Homo sapiens: one gene and its partner. Changing the gene in region 2 together with the main gene of any one other region gives a genetic interaction. Each region holds a gene or a part of one and is shown on either strand. Other genes may lie near its edges.

Region 1 (3,823 bases), on a different chromosome or scaffold from region 2:
ATGACAGCACTAGCCCCATGCAAGGACCCCTGGATGAGGAGGCTAGAGGTAGGGAGTGGGGACTCTCCAGGCAAAGGGAGGAAGCTGACTCAGCTCCACATCATCAGCTGCAGAAACACCCCATGGCCTCTGCATAAGCTTAGAATTTTCTTGGCCACCTCCACATACCCATCATCTAGTGAATTTCTTTGCTCACTTCAAATCACAGCTCAATCATCACTTCTGAGGGAAGCCTTCCCTGACTCCCTCAGCTCTGGATTAGGTCGATCCTCCTGTATTCTAGTCCTCAAAGAGCACCAACTACCTTACCTTCATAGCACGTATGCAGTTATCCTCCTCAGTAGAATAAAAATTCTATGAGAAAGGAACCATGTCAGCTTCTCATTTTCCCCCATTCATCATTGTTTTTCTAGCACCTGACTTAGCACCTCATAGGTGCCCAATAAATACTTGTTGATGACTGAAACAAAGAATGAATAAATAAAAATTCTATGAGAAAGGAACCGTGCCAGCTTCTCATTTTCCCCTATTCGTCATTGTTTTTCTAACACCAGTCTTCGCACCTCACAGGTGCCCAATAAATACTTGTTGATGACTGAAACAATGAAAGAACAAACCAGGATGGTATGTTTGAGAAAATACAAATGAGTTCTGTTGCGGGAAGTCACGGACCCTGAACGGAGGGACCGGCTGGAGCTGCAGCAGAGAAACATAAATTGCGAAGATTTCATTTTAATATGGACATATATCAGTTCCCAAATAATACTTTTATAATTTCTTATGCCTGTCTTTACTTCAATCTCTGAACATAAATTGTGAAGATTTCATTTTAATATGGACATTTATCAGTTCCAAAAATTAATACTTTTATAATTTCTTATGCCTGTCTTTAATCTCTTAATCCTGTTATCTTTGTAAGCTGAGAATGTAAGTCACCTCAGGACCACTATTGTGTTAACTGTACAAATTGATTGTAAAACATGTGTGTTTAAACAATATGAAATCAGTGCACCTTGAAAAAGAACAGAATAACAGTGATTTTCAGGGAACAAGGGAAGACAACCATAAGGTCTGACTGCCTACAGGGTCAGGCAGAATACAGCCATATTTTTGTTCTTGCAGAGAGCCTATAAACAGACGTGCAAGTAGGGAAGATATCACTAAATTCTTTTCCTAGCAAGAAATATTAATAATTAAGACCCTGGGAAAGGAATGCATTCCTGGTGGGGGGGGGGGGGTCTATAAAGGGCCGCTCTGGGAGTGTCTGTCTTACGCAGTTGAGATAAGGACTGAAATATGCCCTGTTCTCCTGCAGTACCCTCAAGCTTACTAGGATTGGGAAACCCCACCCTGGTAAATTTGAGGTCAGACCAGTTCTCTGCTCTCGAACCCTGTTTTCTGTTGTTTAAGATGTTTATCAAGACAATACATACACTGCTGAACATAGACCCTTATCAGGAGTTTCTGATTTTGTCCTTGTCCTGTTTCCTCAGAAGCATGTGATCTTTGTGACCCACTCCCTGTTCGCACACCCCCTCCCCTTTTGAAGTCCTTAATAAAAACCTGCTGGTTTTGCAGCTCGGGTCGGCATCACAGTCCTACCAATATGTGATGTCACCCCCAGAGGCCCAGCTGTAAAATTCCTCTCTTTGTACTCTTTCTCTTTATTTCTCAGCCAGCTGACACTTATGGAAAATAGAAAGAACATACCTTGAAATATTGGGGGCAGGTTCCCCTGATAGAGTTCTGTATGGCAGCAAGGAGAGGCACATGGGGCAGAGTAGATGGACCATGCCATAAAAGCAGGCAAAGGCCATATCATGAAGAGCCTTATGTGAAAAGCTATGCAACTGTATTTCTGCATAGATCTCTATTTTAGTAAAGGCAATCCACAGCAGTGAGGACCAGACTGCTGAGGCAGGGCAACCAGCTGGGAGGCTGTGCAGAAAGACAGGCAAAAAGGGAGGGGAGCCTGAAATGAGGGAGCAAGGGAGGAAATGGAGGAGATGTGAGTCAGGAGATAGCAACAAAGTCGAATCTATAGAACTCTGATGACTACCTGGACTTGGAAGATGGAAAGGAGGGCTAGTACCAGAGGAAGAGTCTGAGATGACTCTCAGGGTTCTGTTTTGGATGACTAAATGAAAGGAGAGGAATTGGCAAGATTCAAGAATGGAGAAAGAACGGCAGGTTCAAAGGGAAGATGAGGAGCTTAGTTTTAGACTTGTTTGAGTTTGAGGGTAGCACTCAGGAGAGATTCGGGCTATGATACAGAACAGGGGTCATGAGCATATAAACAAGTTTGAAGCTGCGGTTGAAAAGAATATAGTAGAGGGCAGAGTCTTGGCAAAAATTGGCATGTGAGGGACAAAGGGGAAGAAAGGAGCCCACAATGGAAATTGAGGGACAAATGGCCAGAGAGATAATACAAAGTAGGACTGGGTTTTCCTAAGTGAGGGGCAAGGTCAGCAATGTCAGATGTGCCAAGAAAGATAAGAAGGAAAAGTGGTCAGGTATTCTGGCAATGTCGAGGTCTGATGACTTTGGGGAGTGGTGGGACGAGAGCAGGATTTTAGCAATGACTTAGGGAAGTACAGGAAGCAACTCTAGATAACTCTTCCAAGAAAGGTGGCTGGGTAAAAGAGGTGTGACAGGGTGCAGCATAGGTTAATTGGAGGGTTTTTGTTTTTTCCAAAATGAGAGTAAACAGAGAATATTTAAATGAGAAGGGTTGATGAAACAGAAAAGAAAATGAACAAATGATGGAACCCAGTCCTTGAGGCAAAGGAGGCGATGGGATCTCAAGCACAAATAGAGGACTTAGTCTTAAAACACCATTTCTTTCACAGAATTAGAATAAAAGGCAAAAGGATAGGGTCAGCTAAAGATCAGTTGGTAAAGGATAGAAGAGGAAGCTGCGATGCCTTAATTAATGGCTGCAACTTAGTGGAGCAAAAGTCAAGGTAGGAGGTTGAGGAGAGGAATGAATATGAGGAAGACATAAAGGGAAATGGACAAGAGAGCTGCCTGAGGATATGGGGAGGGCTGAGCCACGCTGAGGGCCTATTTGGTGGCACACTAGTGTAATAGTGTCAAAAGCACAATGTGTCTATAATGGAGCTGGCAGGGCTTTAGGTTACCACAAGAAAAGTGCAGTCTTGCTCTGCATGGTTAGAGTCCTCAAGGAAAGAGGATTTCCTTTCTGTACCACACACTCAAAGAGAGGCTGACAAACCAGAGCAAGTTCAAGGATGGTAACTGGGATGAAGGTGTGAGGAAATCCCAAAAGTGATCATTCTGAAGCCGGTCTGAGATGGAGTGAATAGGCTATTCCTCAGTCTGCCAAGATCATGGTAATACCTACTGACTACCAATTAACAGAGCAGCACCTCCAGTATTTATTGTCCCTTGATTATACAATCAGGCCTTAATCGCACTGGAGAAGGGTGGGGAGATCAGGAGATAGAAAGGGGAGAGGAAGCGGTGGCTCACGCCTGTAATCTCAGCACTTTGAGAGGCTGAGGCAGGCGGATCACGAGGTCAGGAGATGGAGACCATCCTGGCTAGCACAGTGAAACCCCATCTCTACTAAAAAAAAAAAAAAAAAAAAAAAATTAGCCGGGCATGGTGGTGGGCACCTGTAGTCCCAGTTCCTGGGGAGGCTGAGGCAGGAGTATGGAGTGAACCCAGGAGGCAGAGCTTGCAGTGAGCCGAGATCGTGCCACTGCACTCCAGCCTGGGCGACAGAGTGAGACTCCATCTCAAAAAAAAAGAAAAAAAAAAAAAGAGGAGAGGAAGACATTAGCGAACGTCATTTCCATGG
Region 2 (2,994 bases):
AAGGTGGCTCACACCAGCATTTTGGGAGGCTGAGGATGGAGGATCACTTGAGCCCAGGAGCTCAAGGCTGCAGTGAGCTATGATTGCACCACTGCACTACAGCCTGGGCAACAGAGCGAGATCTTGTCTCAAAAGCAAACAATAAAAAAAACAAACCACCTTGAGATCGGACAGTTCCTGCCCCATAGGACACCATGAGTTATGGTGTGGATTCCATAGAGTGGCTAGAGTGTGAACTTAACTCAAGCACGCTGTTAATGCTGAAGTTATCAGGAGGTTCGAACTTTCAGGTCAAGCGGGAGAGGAAGGCATCAGGCACATGCTCCGGTGGAGCAAGCAGTATGATCTGGGAGCAACAACAGTCAGGGAGACCCCTGCAAGCACCATGTGTTGGTGTCTGCCCTCGCCTGGGCCTTGGAAATGCAGCAGAGAAGACAACAGACATGGTCCCTGCCCTCATGCCATTCACATTCCGGCAGGGCAGAAAAGAGGCTCAGCTGTAGAAGAAATCAGGGTAGCTCCGGGGGATGTGGAAGGAAAGGAGATCAAGGGGGGCTTCCTGGAGGAGGTGTGGCCCAGAACCCTGAAAGGTGAGGAGAGCTGGCCAGGTAAACAGGTGATGGGGTGGCTGGCACCACCCTGAGTCATCTTGTTAGCATTCAAGAAAATAAAAAGTTAAAAACAAACACAACCGAAAAAACAAGAGAGAGTCATCTCTGCCTGGTCAGAGAGGGAAAGGAGGGGATGAGGGGGAAAGGTGTGCAGCCACCAGGGCCCACAATGACAAGGTCAGGAGTTCAGGTTCCACACAAAGGCCGAGGTCCGGAGTTCAGGTTCCACGATTTAGAAGAGCTCTCTGGGTGCTGTGGGAAGTGTGGGTCAGGAGAGGGTGACAGGAGGTGGGGTCAAGAGGGGCTGTGGCCACAGGCTGAAGAGACAGGGCATGCGAGAGGGAGGAGTGGATGGCTCCCAGATCTCTGTCCCCTTATATGGGTAGTGAGGTCCAAGGGCCTCAGTTCCGATGTCACCAGCCCAGGTGGTTCCATGAGGTGGAGGGAACAGGGCTGACATAATACCATGCCAGATGTGCGCAGCTGTGTGTGAGTAAACACCCAGGCCCTTCCCTGGCCCCCCCACCCCTCCCCGCCCCCTCCACCCTGTCCTGTTACCTCCTCGCCAGAGCGGAGAGCGGATGCTGCCATGCCGGGCCCGCCCAGTGCCTTTCTGCGGCCAAGGCTTCCGGCCACCGCCCCGCACCTCGGCTCTCGTCTTGGTCTTGGCATAGCTCTGGAGGCACAAAGAGGAGGGGGGTCAGGTCCACGAGGCAGGTGTCAGGGAGCCGGGCAGATCAGTCCTGCCACGGGGAAGTCAGACAGGAGGCACCATGATGACGGGCTCTCTCTGGCCAAGCACAGAGTACTTGGGGAGCGAGGGGGAGGGTAAAGAAGTCACAGCTCCTGCCCCATGCCAGCCTCACAAAGGCAGGGGCCCTGCCACCGGGCACGCAGGGGGTGCTCGGTATTTTCTGAACTATTGATTTTTTTTTTTGAGGCAGTCTCACTCTGTCACCCAGGCTGTGGAGTGCAAGTGGTGTGACCTTGGCTCACTGCAACCTCTGATTCCTAGATTCAAGCGATTCTCCTGCCTCAGCCTCCCTAGTAGCTGAGATTACGGGTGCCTGTCACCATGCCCGGCTAATTTTTTTTTTTGAGATGGAGTCTCGCTCTGTCGCCCACGCTGGAGTGCAGTGGCGCGATCTCGGCTCACTGCAACCTCCGCCTCCCAGGTTCAAGCAATTCTCCTGTCTCAGCCTCCAGAGTAGCTGGGACTACAGGCGCCCGCTGCCACACCCAACTAATATTTGTATTTTTAGTAGAGATGGGGTTTCACCATATTGGTCAGGCTGGTCTCGATCTCCCGACCTCGTGATCCATCCGCCTCGGCCTCCCAAAGTACTGGGATTACAGGTGTGAGCCACCGCACCTGGCCCCAGCTAATTTTTTGTATTTTCAGTAGAGATGGGGTTTTGCCACGTTGACTAGGCTGGTTTGGAACTCCTGGCCTCAAGTGATCCACCTGCCTTGGCCTCCCAAAGTGCTGAGATTACAGGTGTGAGCCACCGTGCCGGCCTATTTTTTGAACAATTTTAATGTGGTTGTAGCCACAAGGAGGGAGGGCCATGGGAAATGACACAGACAGGGAGAATCAGGAAAGAGGAGCAGGGCAAGGAAATCAGGAAGAACTCAGAATAGCAGACTGATGACTTTATTCCTAGGGTGATGGGGAGCCAGGGAAGGTGTGAGCAGGGGGAGGACTGGCCAGACCTCTGGGGTGGATGGATAAGACCCTGACTGGTAATGGATTCTTCAATGTTCTTGGCACAAAACCCAGACTCCTCCCCACTGCTCCCACTGGCCTCTGTGGCAACACTGGCTTCCTTGTGGTCCCTGCCACAGGGCCTTTGCACACCCTGTTCCTGTTATCTCCACACTAGCCCCACTGCCTCCTTGATCTGGTTAGCTTCTACAGTAGACCCAAGGTTGAACGTCCCATTCTCTGGGACATGCTCATAATTACACATTACGTATGACCATCTGACTCACCTTCACTTCTCCTCCCATGACACTGTGACCTTCATTAGAATAGGGACTTTGCCCATCTTTTTCTTGGGGTTGTGGGGGAAGGGGTAGAGACTGGGTCTTGCTGTTTCCCAGGCTGGTCTTTCCTGGCCCCAAGCAACCCACCCACCTCAGCTTCCAGTGCTGGGATTACAGGCCTGAGCCACTTGCACACAGCCGGACCTTGCCTGTTTTGTCCTCGTGGTCCCTGCTATATCCTCTCACCCACCACAATGCCCACATCAGTGAGTGATCAGAAAACAACTGAAAATGAGCTGGGCACGGTGGCTCACGCCTGTAATCCCAGCACTTTGGGAGGCCAAGGCAGGTAGGTTCCTTGAGGTCAGGAGTTTGAGACCAGCCTGACCAACATGGT

What was found.
Region 1: of MRPL4 (region 2) and ATG7, changing one suppresses a phenotype caused by changing the other (phenotypic suppression), as found in Homo sapiens cells (one large-scale study listed by BioGRID).

Annotation. Positions count from the first base shown.
Region 1 is NC_000003.12:11,275,307-11,279,129, reverse strand, and holds part of ATG7 (ubiquitin-like modifier-activating enzyme ATG7), read right to left. Parts: exon of another isoform or gene 310-3,823; intron 1-309. UniProt on the Homo sapiens protein: E1-like activating enzyme involved in the 2 ubiquitin-like systems required for cytoplasm to vacuole transport (Cvt) and autophagy.
Region 2 is NC_000019.10:10,255,001-10,257,994, reverse strand, and holds part of MRPL4 (large ribosomal subunit protein uL4m), read right to left. Parts: intron 1,288-2,994; coding exon 1,170-1,287; intron 1-1,169.